2 linked regions of the Homo sapiens genome follow. The protein of the gene in region 2 interacts with the protein of the main gene of each other region in a biochemical or structural test. Each region holds a gene or a part of one and is shown on either strand. Other genes may lie near its edges.

Region 1 (3,981 bases), on a different chromosome or scaffold from region 2:
TGCCCAAGTACGGCTGGCTGGGTGTACTCATGGGTCTGAGAGGTCCTCTCATTATGACTGTCTGTGTCCTGTGTCTTGTATGACTGTGTGAGACTCTTGTTATGTCTCATGGCTGTGGTTATGTGTGATGTTGCCATGTGGCTGTTTCACGAGTGGCTGTGGTTGTGTGGCTGACTCTTGTGTGGCCGTGGTCCTAAGTGGCTGTGGTCCTGTGGCTGTCTTGTGTGTGGTTGTGGTCCTGTGGCTGTCTCTTGCATGGCTGTGGTCTTGTGGCTGTCTTGCGTGGCTGCACATTCCAGTGGAGCTGTCATTTTGTGGCTCCCATGCCCTGGTGTGGCATGCTCTGTTTTGCCGTGACTGCGGCTACATGGCTTGGCCTGTTGGGTGGCGGTGGTTGTGTGGGGCTGGCTATGGGACTGCGATTTTGCACATGGGTAGAACCTATGTGGGCTGTTCTCTGTGTGTGCTGGAAGCACGTCTCCCCGAGGTGGAGTAGAGGACAGACATGAGCCCCACACAGAGACGGCCAGGCCTTCTGTGCACCCACAAGTGCACATACAGGCATACAAACCCACAAGGCACACAAACCCACACTCACCCTCAGCCAGGTCCAGCTCACAGTGGCTTGGTCTCCGCTTCAACCGGCTGCTAGGGAAGATGCTAAAAGGTCCTGCTGGCCCAATGTAGACACTGTAAGGGGTCGTGGGTCACTAATGCCTTGTGGGCAAGGACCCTGGCCCCCAATCCCCACTGCCCCCCACCCCAGATCCCCACTGACCTGTTGAGGAAGGGGTGAGGGTGGTAGTGCAGGGCCAAAGTGGGCGGGGCAGTTCCCAGGGTGGAGAGTTGCAGCAGCGGGGGCCGCAGAGTGCCCAGCTCTGTGGTGGGCATGGCTACCCCTGGGGGCCTGCTGTGGCCCAGGCTGATCACTGGTACACCAGGTGGCAGCCTGGGGGGCGAGGAGCCTCCTCGGTGGCCCACCTCCTCCACCTGCGGGGGCCCAGGCGAGGCAGGCTTAGGGGGTGGGGCAGGCGCTGGGCTGGGGGCACACACCATCTCTGCCTTCTCAGTCATGGTGGGGCCCACCTCTGCCTGTGCCTGAGGCGGGCACATGGACCCCGACGTGGGGGTACTCACCTGTGGGAAAGAAGGCAGCCAGTGGGGAGGAGGACTAGGTGCCCCGCTCCCACCTGCTTAGCTCAAGAAACCCCTCAAATGGGAAGGAGGGAGGGGGAGGGGGAAAGGAGGAGGAGAGAAGTTTCAGTAGGCAAAGGCAGATGGCGGGGGCAGGCCCAGAAACTTCCAGGACACGGGAGGGGGGTCCTACGTTAGAGTAGGAGGCGCCCCCCAGGTGCTAGGCAGCGCACTGTCCCTGAGCTCTTTGTGACCCAGGAGGGGCGCTGTTGCCCAGCCTCTGAGCAAATATTCCTTCTTCCAGAATTCCCTCACCTCTGCAGCCTGGAGAGGGAACAAGACAGGGAGCCCCTAACTGATCCTGGGATCCCCAGAAACCCCAAGATTAACCCTGTTATCCTCAGATCTAAAGATCCAACCCAGAGACTCCTCATTAACTCATTGATGCCATGTGAGCTTGGAATCCCTCCAAGATGGACTCTGACCCTTCACGGAAGGCCCCCAGCCCCCACCCAGGCTGACCCTCTGCACCTCAAGAATGACCCTGCGGTTCTTCCCATTGCTGTCCCTGAAAGTGCTCCATAATTGCTTGAGTGACCCCCACTCCCACTGCAAACATCCCCCATAGCAACCCTGTGACCCCACTACTGACACTATGACCTCAAATGCTGACCCTAGACCCCCAAACACTGACCCCACTGCCCAGTCCAGTCCAGTCATGCCCCAACCCTCCCTCTGGCTTGGAAGCCCCCATCCTCATCAGCATCCACGCTTTTTAAAATTTGTTTATTTTTTTAGAGACAGGGTCTCCCTCTGTTGTCCAGGCTGGAGTGCAGTGGTGCAATCATAGTGCACTGCAGCCTCAAATTCCTGGGCTCGAGCCATCCTCCTGTCTCAGCCTCCTGAGTAGCTGAGAGTACAGGCATGTGCCACCATGCCCGGCTAATTTAAAAAAAAAAATTTTTTTTGTAGAGGCAGGTTCTCACTCTGTTGTCCAGGGTGGTCTGGAACTCCTGGGCTCAAGTGATCCTCCTGCCTCAGCCTCCCAAAGTGCTGGGATTACAGGCATGCACCACAATGCCCCGCGATCATCCACAGTTTTGCATACTGTTTTGACATCCCTGTTTGCTCTTGGTTCCAGAGTCCAGGATGTCCCAGCAAGGTGTGAGACTGTTGGCCCCTCTGCCCTGTCTTCCTCAGCTAGGCCCTGGGGAAGCAGGCCTGGCCCCTCACTAGTGGGTCCCTGCTGGTGAATGAATGAATGAAGGAATGAACAAAGGAATGCAGGCTGGGTCCCAGGCCCGGGATCCTCCACCTTTAGGCCCGCTCCCCTCTTACCCCAGCACTGTTCTTGCAGCCTGGTGAGTGCCCTGGCTCTGTCCCGTCAGGGCTGGCAGTCTGGGCCAGGGTGTGGTTTCCAGCGTCAGGCCAGGCTCTGCTGTCTCGCGAGGGTCCGGCCTCAATGCTCCAGGCCCCGGCGTTGGGCCGCGCCTCCTCGTGGGCCTCGGAAGGCCAGGATAGCCGAGGTCTCCGCGTAGGTCCCCCCCAGGGAAAGTGAGCGGCTCCCGGGCCGGCCCGCCTTCTCCCCGCCCCCGGCGGCCCGGTTTCCTCCCTCTCACCCCTGGCGGCGCAGCGGCCGGAGGATGCTGGCCCAGTGCAGATAAGGGCCAGGCTGCCTGGCCGCGCCTGATAAGGAGCCTGGCTGACCCCGGAGGAAACCAGCGGGCGGGGACCTAGCAGCGCGGGCCTCCCGGCCCCGCCCCCAGCCGGCGCTGGCAGGACTCGGTCCGCCACCCCTCAGGGCTTCGCCTTCCGCTCCCCCAGCCACTGTAGGGACCCCGGGCCTCTGGGGACCCGGGCCCCAGGGCAGCCGGGGAGGGAGGTGCCTGGATGCACGCAGGGGGTAAACTGAGGCAGGGAAGCTGCCTCCTCTTATGTCCGAGTCTGCCCTTTGGCTTTGCACACTCCCTGCCCGAATGTCTGTGCTGATGGGGGTGAGGGAGAGCCCTTTCCGGCCCGTTGGGGCCGCGTGACCCTGGGCCCCCACCTCCTCTCCTCACCCAGCCTGGTTCCTCTTTTTACAGAGGCCCTTCCCTCCTCTCCACCACCCCTACCCGGGAGTGGGGCACCCAAAGGGGAACAGTTCTAACAGTCTGGCCTTGGGTGTCCAGCCTGGGCAGGTGTCCCAAGCCCTCAGCACAGTATCCACACATTTCCAAGCCCAGGAGGGTGAGAGGAAGAGCCATGGCTGTCAGGGGTGGGGTGGGGAAGTTGGATTTCCTAGGGTGCTGGGGCTGGTGTGACCTTCCAGTAGATGCCCAACAGGTCCCCACAACTATAGGCCTCTTGGCTACAGGATCACATAACTCCAACTTGGTGGTCCATGGCCCTCACCCCACAGCACCCGGCCCCTTCATGGGGGGCAGTTATCCTGGCTTGGTGGTAAACCTCAAGACCCTACTGGAGCCTCCCACAGGGAGAGGCTCTGGGCACAGCCAGGCAGCAGCAGCTACCAGACTGCCACCCACTTGTGATACTCATGCTTTGGCCCGTCTGTGTATCTGGGCAACTGCAAGAGCCCCCAGGCAGGCAGGCACCCAGCAGCAGGACTACCAACCCCCCCCCCCCCCCGCCCAGGAATGGGGTGGAGCCCAGGACCCCACGATCAACACCTCCATTGCTTTCCTCCAAAGAAGCAGGAACTAAAGTTTTATGCAGTAAAGGCCGGGCTTGGTGGCTCATGCCTGTCATCCCAGCACTTTGGGAGGCTGAGGCTGGCGGATTGCTTGGGCTCATGAGTTTGAGACCAGCCTGGGAAACATGGCAAAACCCCATCTCTACAAAAAA
Region 2 (4,688 bases):
AAATAGTACACTTCTGAAATCATTTTGAGTTTTATAGGATCGGTCTTTTCCCATCAAGTCATCCCCTGAGAAGCTGCAGTTAAACCACATGTTGATAGTTTATATTACAGGTCCATTCTAGTGTACCCATGGAAGAAATAATACTATAAAGAAGTCTTCCCATTTATTGAATACCTATTTTTGTGCCAAGTGCTTTTACATGTTTTAACTGTTATCTTCATGACTGCTCTATATGGAAAATAGTAACTCCATTTTGCACACAAAAGGCATCAAAGTTCAGAAATGTTCGTACTCACTGAAGGCACACAGAAGTTAGTGGCAGAACAAGAATTTGAAGCAGGTCTCCTGCAGAAAAGCTAGATGCTCTCATAGTATCTGTCAGATAACATAGTTGAACCTGAAAGAGGGTGATCAGGAATGGTACACTGGATAACTCCCACACTAAAGAATGTGAGTCGACAACACGTCTTTATGATTTGCTTTGTTCATTAGCATTAGGAAAAAACTGCTCTGTTTTCAAGAACTTTAAAAATTCAGCTTTCCTGCAATTCATAGAAGAGCTTTATTTCATTTTTCTCCTTTACAAATAAGCAAAATGAGATTTAAGATTTTAGAAGTATACTAAAAATGATTTTTAGAAATGAGTTTAGAATATCTCCAAAACATGGTATTTATGATATGACCATTTTTAAAAGAATTTTAAATTATTATTTTTCTTTTCCTTTTGCAGCAAACTTGTCTCTTACCTTTATCTGACCTACATTGGAATAGCGAATTATCACTAAATACATTTTACTGAGAAAAATCTGATGTTTTTGCATTTATCTTAGGAACCATGGACACTGAATCTAAAAAGGACCCTGAAGGTTGTGACAAAAGTGATGACAAAAACACTGTAAACCTCTTTGGGAAAGTTATTGAAACCACAGAGCAAGATCAGGAGCCCAGCGAGGCCACCGTTGGGAATGGTGAGGTCACTCTAACGTATGCAACAGGAACAAAAGAAGAGAGTGCTGGAGTTCAGGGTAAGTGAGCACACAAATTACGTTCTGTTGGTTGGCTGGGGAGGGGTCAGTCCTAGGTGCAGAAAGATATCTGCTAATCTAAAGATGATATATCAATATCTAGTTTAGTGTACTCTTCAAAGTTCTGTATGCCTTTGGAAAAGCATATGTCAGATCATTTTATTCACACTGGGATTTCCATTTTTGCTCTGTTATCTTTGAATGTAAAGGACAGAAATTTATATGTACATTCTCCAGTCATAATCATGCAGTTTTAGGGTATTGTGAGAGATAATCAACTTCTTTTCTGGCACAGATAAATAGAGAAGTATTTCCACAAGCTTAATAGTCACCCTGTCTAGATTCTGGCTTAACCGTCATACTGAAATAGAACTTTGCCTTAAAATAGGAACTTTTCTTTTTATCTTGTGCCCTCTTTGAAGAAGTAGGATTAGGAGAAAATGTACTTTTGCGTTTACTGTGAACCAATACTTATTAGCATATGTGTCATGATTCTAGGTCATCCTAGATCGTACTAAGAAGACGTCTATAAAAGCAAAGGTAGTAAATATTTAGAGTTGGTGGCCACATGTGGTGTCTATCACATATGCTTTTTTTTTACACCCCTTTAAAAATGTATAAGCCATGATTAGCTAGGGAGCTATATGAAAAGCAGGCCATAAACAGGTTTTGGCCCAAAGGTCACAAATGCCATTCCCTGACCTTAATGGAACAAACTTTACAAAAACGTGAGTGGCTCATTGAACGTCTCTGTTTATGGCAGAGATGTGTGTTTTTTCACACATTGCCTAACAAGCTAATTGTTAGAGATTCCAATGAAGGATTATTTCACCAAGATATTGGTGATTTAAAATCATGGTAAAATCTAACATTGTTTGGAGATTGTTTTCCTTAAAATAACAGATAATGGTCGTTCCCTTAAAATAATACATTTCTAAACTTTTTTCCTCTAACAAATCATACACAGATTCTTTAAGATCAATCTCTAACTATATTTGTCAGTGACCCAGTGTCCAATTCTGCTTTTTCTAGTCCACACAATCCAAAAGCATTGAAAGAACATTTTCAACTAAAATGATATGTCAAGGTGTCAGAACACTGATGCTGGTCAGTTTGTCCTTAAGCATGCCATACCCATAAAACAAAAGTAGGAACACTCAACTATGATTGTGGTCATTGCCTTACAGATAACCTCTTTCTAGAGAAGGCTATGCAGCTTGCAAAGAGGCATGCCAATGCCCTTTTCGACTACGCGGTGACAGGAGACGTGAAGATGCTGCTGGCCGTCCAGCGCCATCTCACTGCTGTGCAGGATGAGAATGGGGACAGGTAAGTCAGAACTTTTGCATGATAGGTTGTCCTGGGTGGGGAAGAAGAAGAGCATCGTATAATGCATACTGACTAGAGATAAAAATAATTGTTCAAATATATTGAGTCCTCTAACTGGAATGATGAAGAAAAATAATGTGTGAATAAGGTTAAGTAGCACAATTTGCTGCTCCATCCTGCTGCTGTCATCTGTTGGAATCTGTAGTAGCTGGAGGACTCATCTAAGAGTGAATCTCTCTGGGCAAGAAAACTAAGATGTGTGTAGGTAATGGTACTTTTTGAAAAGCCTTGCTTTGTTTATTGAAGTAATATTTGGAGAATTGTTAAGAGTCCTACCAAATCCCTGAAGCATTGTTATCCCAGCTGCATATTTATGACAGTGTACTCAAGAAAAAGCCCAATAAAGGCAGCAACAACAACAGAAAGATTAAGAGGGACTGGTCATTATTTCCCAGTTACTGGTTTCTTCTCTGCTCCCTCTTCTGATGGTCATCAGTCTATGACTGTTTCAGACTTTTGTGACTGCTCCAGCCCATATGTGGGAGTGGAACATTCCAAACACCATGCCTTCCATTCTTGCTATTACTGAGATTGTATTTGCAAAGCCACCTGGCTTCTTTCTAAAACAGTTCTCTTAGTCCTTTCATTGAGACTTCTAAAATGATCTCAAAAGCCTATAAAAATAACAAGAGACAGCAGCCTTCACATTCAAGTCAAGTGCCTTATCTAAAACCTTCCTAAAATAGCATCAACATAGAGAAATCCTTTTCTGTGGAAGAGCTCTTGAGTGCTGTGTTTTAGACTTCAGTTTAAAAATTAAACCAAGCACTTTAGGAAAGTAACAACCTCAGGGTTTCAAGCAGAGACACCTTTGTTCTCATTCCTTGCAACGTAACCAAGGATGTGGTATAACCACTGGCCTTGTTATACAGTATGAGAGGAACCAGTACAACCTTCTTGGTATAAAGCCATGAACAGCAGAATTCTTTTTCAGGGTTAAATAATCCAGTTAGCATTCAGTAGCATACAACCACAAGAAAAAGCAGTTAACCAAGACAGTACAGCAGTGTTTCAAGTGGCATTTCCAGGGACCTGTTAAATTGATAAGTCTAAGAAGATGAGCACATACAGGTTAGAAAGGAAGTGCTGATATCTGAAGGGAGGATTGTTGGAAGGGATACAAGGCGAGGCACATGCAAGTTCCCTCCTAAGACCCAAGCACACTCACACAAGCCGGCTCTCAGAGAGGCCACAGATTTGGGACTTGGAGAGACCAGAGGATCCTCATAAGAGCATAGGTATAGGGCAGCTTTTGGCCATCACAGCCCAAGTCTCTTGTTTTAATTCAGCTCGTCATATTTGGCTAATAGTTTAAATCCTGTGGCCATTAGTCATCATAGAAAATATAATAAAGAAAAATATATAAAACTTCTGCTATTGGGGAAATTCCCATAAGGGTGTGAGGATTTGAGGGGGAGGGGGAATGTACTTCTGCTATGAAATGCTGAGCGGCACATGGAAATTTTCGAGCAGTTTTAGAAGTATGACCTTTTTCTTGGTGTATGTGCATCATGTCTATGTCAGAGTTTAGGCCCTTTTCAGAAGTCTTCTTCCAGTATCACATTTCAAGAAGCAATAGTGAAACCCTGAGATCATCCGTTTTAAAATATTTCTCAAGTAGCAAAATCACAATTTAGTTTTTTAGGCTCTTCTGTGCCGGAGTTAATCCCAAGTACGATATACTTGCTATTGCTAAGGAAGAGGCTTGAGTAAAGTGGCACCTGATAGCTTATTTTAGAGAAGATCCAGCCTGTACCTCGTGTCCCAGATGTAGTGCTGCTGCGAGATGCTTTAGTGTGCTCTGCACCTCAATCTGTCCATGCTCTGGAGTGGTCATCTTCTTAGACATTCATCTGAATGTCTTTAGAACAGTGCACATGTATCCCCTATGCAGGATTGCTTAAGGGATTAAGAGATGGCTTTGGAGTAAGACAGGCCTGGGCTTGAATCCCAGCTTCACCACGTATTGGCCTTGACTGAGTTATATGACGCCTGCAAGTCTCAGTTTCATTAGCTGAAAAGTGAAGATAATATTACCTAACTCATAGGATTATTGTTATAGTAAAAAGACAATATATATCAAATGCTTAGCATAGTCTGGTAAATCAAAGCTCCCAACAAATAGTAGCCACTGGTAAAATGATTGTTATTGTTATTGTTTTGAATTTTAATAGTATGTTTTTTAATAATTAAAAGAATTACGCTCCTGTGAGTGACTTTGACACCACCAGTATGTTCAGCCTCATTAGCGTAAGCTCTTAAGTTCCTTCTATC

What was found. Proteins that work in one complex are often made in the same cells at the same time.
Region 1: the proteins of NFKB1 (region 2) and LYL1 form a complex in vitro, tested with the Homo sapiens proteins (one study listed by BioGRID).

Annotation. Positions count from the first base shown.
Region 1 is NC_000019.10:13,100,059-13,104,039, forward strand, and holds the start of LYL1 (protein lyl-1), read right to left. Parts: upstream 2,801-3,981; 5' UTR 2,473-2,800; intron 1,138-2,472; 5' UTR 1,114-1,137; coding exon 779-1,113; intron 691-778; coding exon 599-690; intron 1-598.
Region 2 is NC_000004.12:102,595,308-102,599,995, forward strand, and holds part of NFKB1 (nuclear factor NF-kappa-B p105 subunit), read left to right. Parts: intron 1-830; coding exon 831-1,025; intron 1,026-2,212; coding exon 2,213-2,354; exon of another isoform or gene 2,355-4,428; intron 4,429-4,688.